Regions from separate parts of the Homo sapiens genome. Here region 1 is linked to region 2. The links come from fine-mapping of genetic effects on gene expression. Tissue or cell type: whole blood. Region 2 holds a variant in brackets; the other region holds the start of a gene. All regions are shown on one strand. Distances are from middle to middle.

What was found. PIP is the estimated chance that this variant, and not a neighbour inherited with it, causes the effect.
Region 1: GNG2 starts here. The variant in region 2 is fine-mapped to the expression of GNG2 in whole blood (TOPMed, PIP above 0.99). The same link has a PIP of 0.9 or more in blood mononuclear cells and lung.

The regions. Positions count from the first base shown.
Region 1 is chr14:51,855,960-51,864,066 of GRCh38, reverse strand. GNG2 (G protein subunit gamma 2) reads right to left here and starts at 3,455. Exons shown (of 4, transcript NM_053064.5): 1 at 3,277-3,455. RefSeq lists enhancers at 3,339-3,548, 3,335-3,836 and a silencer at 3,889-3,968.
Region 2 is chr14:51,968,983-51,977,089 of GRCh38, reverse strand. It overlaps GNG2 (G protein subunit gamma 2), which reads right to left. Exons shown (of 4, transcript NM_053064.5): 4 at 7,295-8,107. Among named protein-coding and RNA genes, the nearest start is that of RTRAF, 17 kb to the left of the region's middle. The variant G/C (reference allele first, on the strand shown) is at 3,847.

The DNA.
Region 1 (8,107 bases), 110 kb after region 2:
ATTAAATATATAATTACTGTGTTCCATCATTTTCACTTCTGGGTTCCCAAAAGAAGTAAAAGCAGGGACTCTAACAGATATTTGTACACCCGTGTTCATAGCAGTATTATTTACAATAGCCAAAACATGGCCCGAGTGTCCATCAAAAGAGAATAAACAAAGTATAGTCTATACATTCAATGGAATATTATTCAGCTTAAACAGGAAGGAAATTCTAGCACATGCTACAACATTGATGAATCTTAAAGACATTATGCTAAGTGTATTAAGCCAGTCACAAAAGGACAAATATTGTATGACTTCACATATATGGGATACTTGGTCACATTCATAGAGACAGAAGTAAAATGGGGGTTTCCAGGAGCTGAGAGAAGGAGGGAAAGAGGAGGTATTGATTAATGGGTATAGAATTTCAGTTTTGCAAGATAAAGACAGTTCTATGGATGGACGGTGGTGATGACAGCACATCAATGTACTCGCTACCACAGAACTGCATACTTAAAAAAATAGTTAAAATGGGAAATGTTATGTTATGTATATTTTATCACTATAAAAAAAGTCTCCCTAAACCTGTGAGGCAGTGGTAAAGACCAAGAATATGCTAACTTTTCCTTATGCCACCAAGGAAGAAAAAAATAACATTTCAGTACCTTCTATGTAGAAATCACTCACTTATCCGCACACAAAAGCAAAAACAAAGCAAAACAACAACTTTGATTATGTATTACTAGCCCTTCTTTACAATGAGGAAACTGAGGTTCCTAAGTTAATGTACCAAGGTAAGTAGTAAGAACCAGTAATAGGTTTCAAAGGCAGATCTGCCTGGCTCCAAAGCCTGCGTTCTTTTCACTCCACAGTGTTTTCTCCTACCCACAGAAGTCTTTTATGAACAGGCTTTCTACTTTGACTATACAGCTTTTAGACTTAAAAGTTGGGCCTGCTTTCTGAAGCAGGCTAAACAAAGTCAGTCAAACAAACACATTCACTACATGTCCACCATATGAGGCCCAAGGCTGGCAATGAAATAATGGAGTCATGTTTCCATTCAGCCATTGGCCATATGGCAGAAAAAAAAAAAAAAAGCACAATTAAAATTTCTGTGTTGGTCTACTCCTCAAAAGCCAGTGAATACCCCAGGAAAAATCATTAAGTCTTTCAATATTCCATATGGCCAGAATAAGTGGAAATAGTTTCATTTTACAATGTAGAAGCATATTCATCTTTTTCCTAAACATTCTACCATCATAGTTACTGATCTGCTGTTACTCACTAATGTTCTGCTTCAAGCTGGAATTTAACGATTAAGAAATGTTTTGTGCTGTGCAGAAAATAGGCACCTCTTAGTTGTTTTCAGAAAGATAGCAAGGCCCTCTTGACTCTACTATGCCCGTCGGGCAAGGTTTCATTTTCTTACTCATGTGTGAAACACACACAGAAGACTAATGCAGATTGTCTGTGCCTCCCCAAACAAAGTAGGGTGTTGGCATTATCTAGTGAATACAGCCTGCAGAGGAGTAAGTACCAAAGGGTAAGCCTGTCCTTATCCATGCAGCTCAGGTTGCCAACTTTTTACTTCATTTCATGATGCACAGCTTGATTCTAGAACTCCACTGGGTCATTCTGGATCGAAGATCTATCCTAGGTCTCTTCTCTAAGAAGATGATCTTTACATACTTCCCTTTAAGATGCAAATAGGAAGTGGAACTGCAAAATCCATGTCACGACTTGTTTTGCCCACAAGTTTGATTAAATTCAGTGAATCCTTCAAGGAGTTCCATGGTTTCAATACTAGCAGTACTTTGTCTCTTAGGCATGGTGCAGGTTTACTTTAATGAGCAAAAAACCTCTGAGAAATAGACTTTTTTTTTCTTTAGTAGCTATAAAAGCTTCCCATCTCTCAAAATGTGCTGCTACTCCACAGATTTTGAGAAGCCATATCGATTTCATAAAGATAGCATTAAAAATAGCCCTATAGCTCTTAACAAGTGAGAACGATGATAAAGGAGGAGGCATATACATACATACACTCTCAACTAGCATATTTGGTATCTAAGAACCTATGTTTCAAGAATCTGTGAGTGTCAAAATATTGACTTTTTTTAAATTTTTACTCCACTATAAGCAGTTTTTTCTCTTTCTTTTGAAAAATTATCTCCTTTCATTATAGAAACTCTAGAAGAAAAACCCTTTTATCAATGACTACTTACTGCTTAACTGTACTTTCTGTTGAAGATTAAAAAAGCTTAATTCTTTAAATCGTGCTGCATGAGGGTATTAAACTCCCTAATATATCCTGTCAGAGGAATCTCACAATCTCAGTTCTCATCTGCTAGACCTATTTAGTGTACTTTTACATATCATTCATAAATATGAACAAGTCATAGACCCAGGCTCTCATTAAGAACATCCTTTGCTCAAGAAAATCAAAGAATAAAAATCATGTTCTGGTTTTACTACTTCAGTCTATCTACCAGATATTCGCGTAAGGAAACAACCCAGCTGCACTTTTTTATTTTGTCCCTCACCGAGGCTAACATGCACCTTGACCTAGAGGTGAATAAAATGCATATAAACATAAAATCCATGCATATGCTAGTATCTGATTCTGGACAAGTTACTGGCCTTAAACCCGCCACGCTCCTTTGAACAAGGATGCAACTTTAGGATAAGACCTACTGGCAAATGATAGCTGTGTCTGAGGTTATCCTGAAAGCAGCTGCACAAGCTGAGGGAGGAAGACACTGTTTTTTAATGGTAAATACTGCCCCTCACATACGCAATTCAAGCCTTTGTTGGCAAAATCTAAGTACAAAAGAATTTAACTCCCCCAAAAGCCAAATCACAGCCATTATTTTTGCAAAACAGAAGATATCCCAGTGCAATGTGTAAGAAAGAGAATGCAATTAATATTTTACACCACTCACTCCCCTAAAACAAGGGGACTGCCGGGCTCCGATGACCAGACCACAGCTTCACAGCCCCAGATGGATTTCGACTCAGCCCTGGTTTTCCTCCGAGAGAACTATACAAACAGCTTCTTGTATTTAGCATGTTGGCCTGTTTAGTCATCAAATCTAAGCACTGATGATGAGGTTTTTTTAAATCAAATGTGTCATAAATGTGGTTATTCTCAAAGACCCTTCCAAAAGAATCTAATCATTTCCCCTAGTCCTGAAGCGATGTCTCTATCATCCCTTAGAAATCGGACCTTAAAACCACAAGCGACGGTCGTTTTTCTCAATTAAAAACGAGCAACATGGAAAACGTTTCATTTACCTTAGCTCCCGAGGCTTGGTCCGAGGAGCGTGGTTTTCCCCTCTCCGGAGCTGATCTGTGCAGGCGAGCTCCGGCGCAGCCCAGCCCAGCCCAGCCCAGCCCAGCAGTAGTAGGAGTTGCCCACGGAGCGCGGCGGCAGCGTTGTGAGTATGTGTAGCAGCGGCTGCAGCCCAGGGACTAGTCCCCACCCAGCTTTGTCTTCAATCAACGTTCTTTCTACAGGAAGCAGCGCATCTCCCACTTCCTCCTCTTCTTGGTAGCTGTTAGCGGCTTGCTTCTTTTCCCTCTCATTTCCATTTCAGGGCTTACTCTGGTGGTTTTGTCTGCTCCTGGGCTGCTGACAGTGATTTGACTTTAATCCCCCTTCTCCCTTTGTTCAAGTCCCTCTGGTGCTGTCTGTTCCTTCCTTCCCCTTTTCTCATCCCCCCACGGTCACCTCCACGACAGCTTCCACACACTGCTCAGTCGGCCCCCTTCCTGGCACACTGCCTGCTTTTTTAGCCTGAACCTGGCTTGTTGCTATTGTTGTTCTTGCTGTTGTTGTTTCTACTGCTGCTGCTGTTTTTTTTTGGGTCAACATCCCCTGGCCAGGTTCTGGCCCCCGAGATCCCACACCAGCCTCCACTGTTCCTCCTGATTTACTGTGGTCCCCATCAAGCCAGCTAGCTGGGAGCTTGCAGCTTGCAGCTTGCAGCTTCTCACTGCAGCATTTTTCTCTGTGGCCAACATTTCAGAGGCTTCATTTCTCCAAGGTCCCACTACCACTGAGATCTTACTTAACCCACATGCTCAGAAAAGAATGGCCCTGATAAGTATTCTTATGGGGCACGGGAACTAAACCAAGTTGGCAATGCTACCTATAGGCCTAATAGTGAGGACTATTCCCAAAAGATTCTCATAGATGGGAAGGAATGAGGTGGTGCTGAATGCTGCACATTCCCAACAGAGAAACTGAATACTCCTCTCCCCATTCCACACACACTAGTAGGGCTGAAGGACCCTCATGATCCTCCAGTCCCTTCCCTTCATCTTAGGAGGTAATATCGTAGAACCCACCAGGGTAGAGCCTGCAAGCTGTCTCTGTCTGCCAGAATTTCAATCCAAATTGCCATTAATGACTGTATGAACTTGGGCAAATTATTTAACATCTATGTGCCTCAGTTTCCTCATCTGCAAAACATAGTTGATGATAGTCATGCTCTACATTGGAAATATGAGGATTAAATGAGATGGTATACAAGGTGCTAATAATAGTTCTGGGGATATAGGACGTATTCGGCACATATTAACTCTTATTATTTTTAGAGGATGTTGGGCCTCACATTCAGCAAGTGATTTCGCCAGTCAGCAGCCGAACCCTCACCAGTACTTGGTTTTCCAATTCCTCACTATTAGTATGTTCACAATTGAGCCCAGATGCTTTAATAACAATTTATTCAACGTGTGAGTCATTCTCCCCCTAGTACTAACACAAGGTACTTTGGGGAAGCTACAGATTAAACATGAGATGGGGGAAGGGGAATCCTGTTCTAGTGTCCAGGCAACATTATGGAGTTAAAAACAAAAACAACAACAACAAAAAACACCTCTTCTCAGGAATCAGTGCCTGGAAAGCTAATCTTGCCAGGAAACAGTTAATTCCCCAACTCCTCCTTTTTAATCCAGTTTTGCCTTAATCCTCCAGCAAGTAAACTAACAGGAAATGTTAGAAATCTAGGACTGATGGAGAATAACTCTCCAGTTGAGCCTTCCAAACACATCGTGAGGACCACAGCACGTTAACCTAGAAGGTACAGAATTTAATTTCTATGAAATGTTCTGAGACAGTCCCAAAACACCCTTTGTTTTGATTTGAACAGTTTGCTTATTTTTTCAAGGAAATCTTTCATCAAAAAGGACCCTGATGTCAACTCACTCACACCTGAAAATTACAAAATGGATTGATTTAAGATTGAAAATGAGCAACTAGCTTTGATCCACCAGCAGATAGAAATGCAGTAGTGAGAGGGATTGGGCATGAATCCACCAACATGTGAGTTATCTCCAAACCAGGAACCCTTGTGCCAAAGGTTACCAGGAACTTTTAAATGTAAATTTAAATATGCATGATGCCAAGTCTAAGAAAAATGAGAAGCATGTTATTAATGGTTGGAAACAAGACTATGGTTAATTTTAGACAAGTAGGTTCTGGCATAAACTCTAGATTCAAGTACAGTAATTTTTTGTGTCTTTTTGTTTCTAACTCTCTCTCAACCATCCTCCGATGGTTGGTATTTATATTTAAGCCTATATAGGTTGGTATTTATACTTAAGCCTATATAGGAAAACCTCTTTCAAACAATAAAATCTCTAGGAATTTTGCCTGCTGCCTTTTAATTAGTTCTTCCATCTCTGGCCCTTATAAAACTCACAGTAGGTTAATCGCCAGTGTTGGGAGGTGCCAACAAAACTCTATACAAAGCTAAAAACTAGATTTTAAGACCTCTCTTTCATTAATACCTCATTGCTTTTCAACTGGTCCTAATAGCCTCTTTTTCAGGAGAGAAAAGTAAAGTGTGGGGGTATAGCTTGGCCAGGATAGATTAATCCAGTTTAGAGCTCTTAACACAAGTTTGCATACCAAGTTTGCAAAGTGTTAATTTCTTAGGAAAATGACATCTCGCCATTAATAGTTTATGCATCAATTGCTAACCATGAGCCTATCCCAGTACATTTTATCACTGGGTAAAACAAAGTCTGTAAAATACTCTAACATTCATGCATGGCCTATTTGCAGGCATTAATACCTTGTATTTCTTACATCTACTGGTAGCGGAGGTTGGGTAATGAGGAGGACATAATTTTGGCCTGATGTCTCTCCTATGTTATTGAGCTTTCTAGCTGGATGTTCCTTGGAGTTATGTTTAATAATCCCCAAATTATGTACTATACCTTCATCCAAAGCCTGTTCCTCTTTCTATATTCTCCATTTCATTTAATGAGGAATACAAACCAGTTGCCCACATCAGGAATATAAGAATAATCCCAAAACCTTTTATCTTTGTTATCCCAATCTGATTTAAAGTTCCTCTTCCTTTCCTTCTCACCACCAAACTATCTCCTTGCCCAAACCCCTCCTCTCTCTTCCTCTTGCCACTGTCTTATTTTACAAATGCTTTGGTTTTTTCTGTGCAATTACAATACTTTCTACTTTGTCCTCCTACCTCCAGTCTCTCTTCGAAGCCATCCCCATCAGAAGTACATTGCTGAGATGGAGAGTTGATCAAGTCACTTTCCTACTATAATTCTTCAGTATCTTCCCCTCCAGGTTGCTTACAGGATATATGCCTTAATTCCTCTGCATGGCATACAAAGCCTTCTGTGATGTCACCTGTCCACATTCTCACCTTAGGGCCTGTCGCAGCCTTATATCCTACAACCTTCACAACAGGTTCCTGATGGGACTGTGCTGCTTTCTCCCTGCATCTTGGCACATGCTATTTCTGTTGCCAGAAATGCCCTATCCCTTCCTCTATTTTGCCTGCTAGTAAACCCCTACTTATCCTTTAGGACTCAGCTTTTCTCAGAAGCCTTCCCTGGCCGTGGAAACTAGGCAGGTGCTTCCTTTTCTGTGAGTATGACTGGTGCCTTGCCTCTACTTCCATTTCAGCACTAAAGCCATTATTTTCAGGTTTTGTTAGATGTGCATCTCACCCATTAGCATTTGGGTCCATTAAGGTTAGGTCCACATTTGCTTGTCACACAGCAGAGTCAACAGATGTTTGTATAATGAAAAGGCATCATTGGCAGAAATTCCATTCCTTTGAGTGAGGGGAGGAAAAGGAAGTCTCAAAAATGAGAAGTTGGTCATGGGGTAAGAAATAAAATCCCTCCCTCTCTATATATATATTTTGCAAATTTTCTATAGAAATCCATGGCACATGCACACAAAATTCTGAATATTTGTTATATGGGCAAGCCTAAAAAATTCTGGGACAACTCCTAGTTCCATTTCTGCATTGAACTTCTTATAAAGAAGCATAGTCTGGCAACAAAAAAGTAATTAGAAAATAAATATTAAGGCTGGGCTCAGTGGCCTATGCCTGTAATCCCAGCAATTTGGGAGGCCAAGGCAGGCAGATCACTAGGTCAGGAGTTCAAGACCAGCCTGGCCAACACAGTGAAACCCCATCTCTACTAAAAATACAAAAATAAGCCGGGTGTAGTGGTGCACGCCTGTAGTCCCAACTACTCAGGAGGCTGAGGCAGGAGAATCACTTGAACCCAGGAGGCAGAGGTTGCAGTGAGCCAAGATTTTGCCATTGCACTCTACCTGGGCAACAGAGCAAGACTCCGTCTCGAACAACAACAACAAAAAAGAAAAGAAATATTAAAAAGAAAGCTATTCTTTATTTGTATCTCTGTAGGAACTTTAAAGAGACTGATGAATAAGCTAGAAACACTTCTCACATCCCCTTCTGCACTCTCAAATCTTTGCCACATTCCAACTGTCCCAGAGCATCTCATATGCCAAATCCCCAAACTCTTTAATCTCTCTGCAATGCTGTACACCTCCTTCTCTCTCCTCCCCCGCCATGCCCAGCTAGTTCTTTATTTTTTCATTTTTTATTTTTTTGAGACTGTCTTGCTCTGTTACCCAGGGTGTAGTGCAGTGGCACAATCTCAGCTCACTGCAACCTCCACCTCCCAGGTTCAAGTGATTCTCCTGCCTCAGCTTCCCGAGTAGCTGGGATTACAGGCGTGTGCCAACCCACCATGCCCAGCTAATTTTTGTATTTTTTGTACAGATGGCATTTTGCTATGTTGCCCAGGCTGGTCTTGAACTTCTGAC
Region 2 (8,107 bases):
GAGGCCAATTTTGCACCCATTTGCAAATTCATTTCAGTATTCCTGATCTTTAAATCTCTTTTATTTATTTTTGCTTTGGCCACTGGTAACATCTGCCTTGTTTCCTTATTAATAATGAGTTAGAGAAAATCTTTGACGTGTTCATTTAATACCTATGTGAGAGTCATGATTTCGCTTTTGTTTTTGTGGAAAATTGTCTTTCAATATGCTGTTTAATTATGAAATTGAATTCAGGAACGTTTTCCTAGAAAACATTCGAACGTGGTCCTAGGGAATGACCTAAAACACTTCTATGCTGCCTTTTTGAATCATCTCCTCTTTCCATTTACGGTCTACTCATGACTCTGCCACTACATTTCTATATAATTTTGAATGGCACTTCAACTTTCCCATCTGGAAAGTAGGGAGTGGAACTCAAAGGCATTCTATAAGACAGCAGTTCTCAAACTTCATGGTCTAGGGACTTCTACACTTTTGAAAATTATTGAGGACCTCCTAAAATTATCAGGGCTTTGGCTTATGTGGGTTGTAGCTCTTGTTATTTGCCATATTAGAATTAAAACTGAGAAAATTTAAAAAATATGTATTTATGAGGCTGGGCATGGTGGCTCACGCCTGTAATCCCAGCACTTTGGGAAGCTGGGGTGGGTGGATCACAAGGTCAGGAGTTCGAGACCAGCCTGGCCAACATGGCGAAACCCTGTCTCTACTAAAAAAATTCAAAATAAGCTGGGCATGGTGGCCTGTGCCTGTAATCCCAGTTATTCAGGAGGCTAAGGCAGAATTGCTTGAACCCGGGAGGCAGAGGTTGCATTGAGCTGAGATCATGCCACTGCACTCCAGCCTGGGCAACAGAGCAAGACTCCATCTCAAAAAAAAATGTATTAATTCATTGAAAATAACAATAACAAGCCCATTACATGGTAACATAAATAACATATTCTTATGACAAATAACTATATTTTTCAAAACAAGAAAATATACAGTGGGAACAGTGGCATTGTTTTACATTTCTGCAAATTGCTTTATTGTCTGGCTTAAGAGAAGACAGATTCTTGTATGTGCATTTGCATTCAATTTGTTGTGACGTCAATATGTAGCCTCTAAAATATCCAATTATGTTCATGAAAGAAGGCAAGTAAAAAAGGCAAATAACATCATAATAATATTATGAAAATAGTTTTGACCTTGCAGATTCCCTGAAAGCGGCTCAAGTCCCCTCAAGAGTTACTGGAACACTCTTTGAGAACTGCTGTTATAAAGTAAACCAAGACAACCTAGAGGTGGGAGTAGTGATTTTTTTATGATGGGCATGCCAGTACATCATGCTGGTCCCTTCTTAGAGTGACAATTGGCTTTCCTAAGCATTCCGGAACAGCCTTTCCTTGGGCGCACACATACGCAAGTGTGTGCATGTGTAGCAGCATCTGTTGATCTGTGCTGGGATTCTGTGTTACAAGCTTGAGTGGGACATCGTATATCCCTGGAGTAGGAACAGGAAGTAGATTGACGGTGGGGGAAGGAGATAAGCTCCATTCTTTTTTCCCAAAGAAGCTCTGAGTGAGTCCCTGAAACTGCATTTGCAAGGGCCTTTGTCCTAGAATTCGTTCTTGATCCTTTTCTCAAATCACGGCTTGGAGAGTGAAGTCTCTGGAAGCTTCTACTCTTACTCAGATGACCCTGCTTCTGACCCTTGGAGGGTCACTGGGCTCTAAGATGACAGAAAAGCAGGTATTGGAAGAGTAGTCAGTAAAGGAAGAGAGTTTTCCTTCCTGAAAGTCCTGAAGAAAAAAAAACACTCTGTGCCTTCCCTGTTAGAATCACTCTTCTTGTTCTTCCTTGCACAGGCTCCTTGATACCAGGAAATATTTTCAGTGCAAGATGAACCTGGAAGCTACTGCTGATACTTTCTAGGTACCAAATGACCACTGTGAAGAAAATGTAAATATTGACATGAGCTCACTGATTTCTTCCTTTTAGAGAAGTAACTCAGAGATTTGAAGTTTATAAATAATCCGCTTATTCTATAAATAAGAACAGACTCAGAGCTTTTATTATCACCTCCCTTTTATGTACTTACATTCCAATTTACACCATAAGATAATGGTTAAGAATTAAATCTTTGGAATCGGGACAAACCTAGGTTTATATCCTTGGTCTGCCACTTCATGGTAATGGGAATTTAGAGAAATGTCAACCGTTCTAAACCCTAAATTCCTCATCTATAAAGTAGGGGTGAGTTACTTTGAGATCCCTGCAAAGCAGAGCCTGAGTCAAGGACCTGGATGCAGGTAGTTTATTAAAGGTAGTGTTGAGGGTGATCCCAGAAAGAAGCAATGTAGGAAGAGAGAAAATGAGGCAGATTTAAGTGAGAAAAACAATATGGCATATTATTGGGCTGGTTACTCTTGTGGCTGATTGAGGACTGGGCATCCTCTTAGGGATGCTCAGAGAAATCATATAAAATGCATCCAGAGATGTCCCTCTGAAAGGGTGGGAGCCTGAGACTTTTCTCCAGACTCGTCCCTCATTGGCTGAGGATTGCCCCAGGGGCACCAATTTTCACTGGGAAGAATGAGCTTGCAGAGAACTCTCCACTGCCGCTGTGGCTGAAATCAGCAGTGGATCGTGGATGTGTCATGAGGCACAAAGCTATCTGCTACAGGAGATAAATAATGACCGTGTCCTAGAGTTAGTGTGAAAATTAGATGAAGTGCTGTCTATAAAATGTCTAGCATTGTGCCTTGCTCAAAGGTAAGTACTAAGTAAGCATTCACTTTATTGTTGCGGCTGATGTGATCATTATGATTATTATCATTGTATGTTCATGAGTGAGAGAGATGAGTGAATATATGACTTAGAGGGTTCCAAGAATGACATGTAATCTGCAGTCTATCTCTTCTATGCCAAAGCCTGTATGATGATTTACCAGGACCAATGGCCAATTGTTGTGATTATTAGGGGTCATTACACTACTTTTACTTTCTCACCCTCTTTTTGATGTTTTGTCAAAATTTGGGCTCAAGGAGAAGGCATATTCAGTCAGTTGTTTGTGATGGAAAAAAGGTTGCCATTATGCTAGAGCAGCGCTGTCTAATAGAACCTTCCACGGTGATGGAACTGTTCTCTATATCTGTGCTGTCCAAAGACAATAGCCATTAGCTGCATGTGGCTTTGGGCACTTAAAACATGGCTGGTTCAGCTGAGGAACCAAATTTTTAATTTTATTGAAAGTTGTAGTTAATTTATATCTAAATGTAAATCGCCAAATGCACACACAGGGAAGGGCAATTAGAGATAGTGTTCCCAGTAGATAGTGGAAGGGCCCCTTCCCCTGGGGCTAAAATTAAGGTGATACAGCCAGCAATGTATTTCCTGCAGCCCCTGGGCCTGAAGCCCACGAGATCTGACTTCCAGGTTGGTGCATGGTGGTATCACCCAGGCCAAAGGGCTGCTGGCTGAAGACAATGTCCCCATGATGTTGTGAAGACACGGAGCCAGTAGAGGTTGGAGGGGGAGAGGTGACGACCTCCACTCAGCTTTGGCCCATTGTTTTGTGTGCAGAGCCAATCGCCCACCCCTTTGCAGGGGAGAGCTTCATTCTCAGCTGCCCTACAATGAGGGAAAGATTAAAGAGAAGCCCATCCACCTAGTGTTGTCTACTTCCTAAAGGTTACACTACCCTAGAGACAAGATTCTTGGACGGACGCAGTGGCTAATGACTGTAATCCCAGCATTTTGGGAGGCCGAGGCGGGCGGATCACCTGAGGTCAGGAGTTCGAGACCAGCCTGGCCAACATGGTGAAACCCTATCTCTACCAAAAATACAAAAATTAGCCAGGCGTG[G/C]TGGCAGGCACCTATAATCCCAGCTACTCAGGAGTCTGAGGCAGGAGAATCCCTTGAACCCGGGAGGCAGAGGTTGCAGTGAACTGAGATTGTGCCACTGCACTCCAGCCTGGGCAACAAGAGTGAAACTCTGCCTCAAAAAAAAAAAAAAAAGATTATCATTTAAGTATGATTAACTCCAGCATCACCTCCTCTGGCTGGTCATCACTTCTACCCTCCCTTTAGCTTCTGTGTCCTAGAATTGACCACTTTGGTAACTGACTATTCACTTGTCTATTTTCTCCATTAAACCGCAAGCTCCGGAAGGCAGGTGCCATGCCTTCTACCCTAGCACAACGCCTCAAACACAGTCAAATACTCAACAATACTGACAGCAAGGGCAACAGGAGTGGAGAGAGGAGAAAGGTTCATATTTCCTGAAGTCATTCATAGACCTCGTGGAATTCAAGCTAAACCTTGACAGAAAAGCAAGTTTAGTTACTCAAGGAGTTGTGTAATGACATTCCAGAGGGGGTAACATCAGAAGCAAAAGGGGAGACTAGCCAGGCATAGTGGTGGGTGCCTGTAATCCCAGCTACTTGGGAGGCTGATGCAGGAGAATCACTTGAATCCGAGAAGTGGAGGTTGCAGTGAGCTGAGATCACGTCACTGCTCTCCAACCTGGGCAACAGAGCGAGACTCTGTCTAAAAAAAATGTAAAAAGCAGCAGACAGGGAAGTGGGATGAACTCACAGCACACTGAAGGAGACAGGATGAACTGGAAAAGAGGGTTTGGATGGCAAGATGGGATTAGCCAAGTGGGGCCTCTCAAGGGCCTTGAGAGCCAGGTAGTTGAGATTGGACATGATGTGGTTGACAAAGAGCACCATGAACCAGAGAACCTTGGGTTTCTGAACATGGTGAAAGATGAGGTAACATCAATAAATCTGTTAAGATGTGGTTGGCATCAGTTGTTTTTTGCCTTTAACTTTCAATCCTGCCTCCTGTAGCAAAAGGACTTCAATTTCCTTAGAACCACTGTTCTGCCCACATGGCCCAGTGACTCTACCTCTATCCCTAGGTCCAGGGGTGGGCGAGCACAGGAACCAGATCTAGCCAATAGTGTCTTAGGAAGGGTTCCAGGGATATAGCCAGAGGCTTCTGCTAGAGCTGTTGTTATCTTTCTTCCTTGATTACTAAACTGTTGAGATATAAACCTGGGCCTGCTGACACCATCTTGATGCTGCGGGGCAAGAGTCTGAGAATTAAACCAGCACAGAGAATAGCCTAGCCAAGGGATGACAGGGACATTCCATGACATCCTCTAAGCATCTGGATCCAGCTGGGCTTGAAGTGGGACCTATTTTGGGGCATTAGGTTTCTGTCACTTGCAATCAAAGAAGTCCTGACTAATGAATACTCAGGGTCAACTGGGTGAAAGTGGGAGGAGATGAGCATCAGAATGCCCATACCAGCTGGTGTGATGGGAATTCAGACATGAGACACTGAGGGTCTCAACCAGGGCATTTGGGGGCTAGAGAGAAAGGAGGTGAGTTAAGAGGTGAGCAGGAGCTATCTAGCGGTTTCCTTTCTTCGAAGGTTGCCGTCAAGTAGTTTCTAATGGTTCTTTACCACCTCTGCCTTCGTGATGCCCCTTTACCTCTTTCATTTTTCTTTTCTTTTTTTTTTTTTTTTGAGATGGAATCACGCTCTGTCACCCAGGCTGGAGTGCAGTGGCGTGATCTTGGCTCACTACAACCTCTGCTTCCCCGATTCAAGCAATTCTCACGCCTCAGCCTTCCAAGTAGCTGGGATTACAGGTGCCCACCACCACACTTGGCTAATTTTTGTATTTTTAGTAGAGACAGGGTTTCACCGTGTTGGCCAGGCTGAACTTCTGACCTCAAGTGATCCACCTGCCTCAGCCTTCCAAAGCGCTGGGATTATAGGCGTGAGCACTGTGCCCATCCTCTTTCATTTGTTTTTAACCATTTTGTGAGATAAATGAATCAGGCATTCTTGTACCCACTTTAAAGCAGGAGAGGTCAAAGGACTTGCCCAAGGTCGCATGGGAGCGCTGGAGCCTAGTTCTGGTTCTCTAGTGCATGCTAATGCTCGAGCACAGTGTGGACTGAGCTCCCCAGGCCCCGTCTTTCTGTTGCTTCATTGTGGAGATGCAATACCCGGCTCCCGGCTTTTCTTATGACTTCCAGAGAGAAACAGCAGTAGTTCTTGCTGAGGAAAGGCCCAGGAGCCCATGGCCTTCTTCATTAAAATAAATTCTGCCTGAGTCTCCTGGTTCTAAATAGAAGAAAATGTAGATTTGGGGCAGAACCGAAGGGAAAGGGATTTCCCTTGGCAAATTATTTGCAATTTGTGGATTGGAGCTGACCCAGCTCCAATTCCCTCTGTCATTCTAAGTGCCATCTACAATGTGACCAGCTTATTAAAGAATGAGAACTGGAGGCAGTCCTCCCACAGGGGCTCAACAAAACAGGAGCAGAGTCACAGCCCAGCTGCGTCTTCCTCAGTGTAGCATGTCTAGTTGCTGGCTAGATTCTCACCCTTCAGTTACATGTTCATGCCTAGGCAGCCACTTCTGGGGGCTGTGGGAAGAAGAGCGAGAATATTTATGAGTTGTTTGTGCCTTTCCTTTGGCAGTATGAAAAGCTAGCTGTCATAAATACTGTAGTGGTCCTCAGACTATAGCATGTAACAGAATGCACGTTCTTGAGTCACTGCCAGGGATTCTGAGTTCGTGGGTAGCTCAGGATCCGCTTTGTAAAGAGGCATTCCAGGTATTAATACTCCTGGAGCAAGTGGTCCATGGACCACAGTCTGAGAAACACTGATGTCAGTGGAGCACTAGTGTGCAAACTCCAAGTGGCCCCCTTCATCCGTGGTTTAAAGATGCTGCTGTTGCTGGCACAAGTCCCAGGAGATCCAGTGTTTCCTTCTTTACTAACAGGGTCTGTTACTGGCATAATCTGAGGAACATTCAGAAGTCTTTCTCGACTAAGAAGATCTCCAAGGAGCAGCTGCATCTAGAGTTCTAAGGACTTAGCTTCTCCTGTACTCCTTTTAAATCACAGATAGCTACAGAGAACAGCACTTCTGTTGTTCAGTCTTTATTTTTCATAAGGGAAAAAGCCCACTGTGGCATACCTGCAGCAAGTGAAAGTGTAAATACAGCTCCTCTGTCTGCATACTCCACCCTATCAGAGCCCTGGGCTCTCCTCACAGCCCCCACCTTTCTCTGTCCCCAAAGGCTGTACCCAAGATGTACAGACCTAGTAAGAAATGCTTTTAGAGTGTCAAGTGAGTTTTTTCTTCTTTCGGACATCTCTATTAACAAAATCCTAAAGAAAATCAATGGATTCCTATTTCCTCATCCATTCATACCATCAGATCCTTCTCAAATTGACCACAGAATCAGTGGCCGTCACAATGAAATTGACTGCATATGAAATGAATCTGAAAATTCCATTTATTAAAACACATACATTGTCCATGTGGGATGAAAATGTGCACATCACATTCAGGTTTTCCTGCTTTAACATTTCTGTAGTTCTCTCTTTGAAACACACACTCCACAGATCTTATATAGGAAAAATGTGAACAACTTTTGGGCTGCAAAACATTAATGCATACATAACAATTCATCATTGCCAAGAGCAGCTAGAAGCAAATATTAAGGAAGAAAGACAAAGAAGTATAAAAATTCCTAAAGACAGCATGCTTTATTTTCTCAAAATTCCATATGTGACTATGAGCGTATGGAGAAATCGTTTGATTTTTAAATTTATTGTTTTGTCCTTGGTAGGCAATCTCCTTCAAATATTATTAGCAAAATCAAACATAGATCAAAGTATGTATTTGCATCTTCTGATTGAAATTAAACAGTACTTGGTTTCAAATGTTTTAAAAATAACACTTTTTAAACTGGAGTTGATATTGAGGATCATGTAAAATTATTCTTTATAGACTTTGCATTCTAAATATGAAGTTTATTGTTACTACTTATTAGTTAATTCCACGGCAGATTTTCATTTCTATCGAATATATTATATGTAGAAACTAGGGCCTTAAATAATTAAGCTGACTTTTCCTATTAGTTATTCCTTAAGATAAAATTATGCTGGTGAAAATGACTGTTGAATTTCTCAAGAAATTAAGCTCTATAGAGGCATAAGTAATCGAAAGACTTTTTCCCCTGAATAAGTACAAATACCAAGAAGCCAAAACTCATATAAAGATTTTCGTATTATAATTCCATACTGTA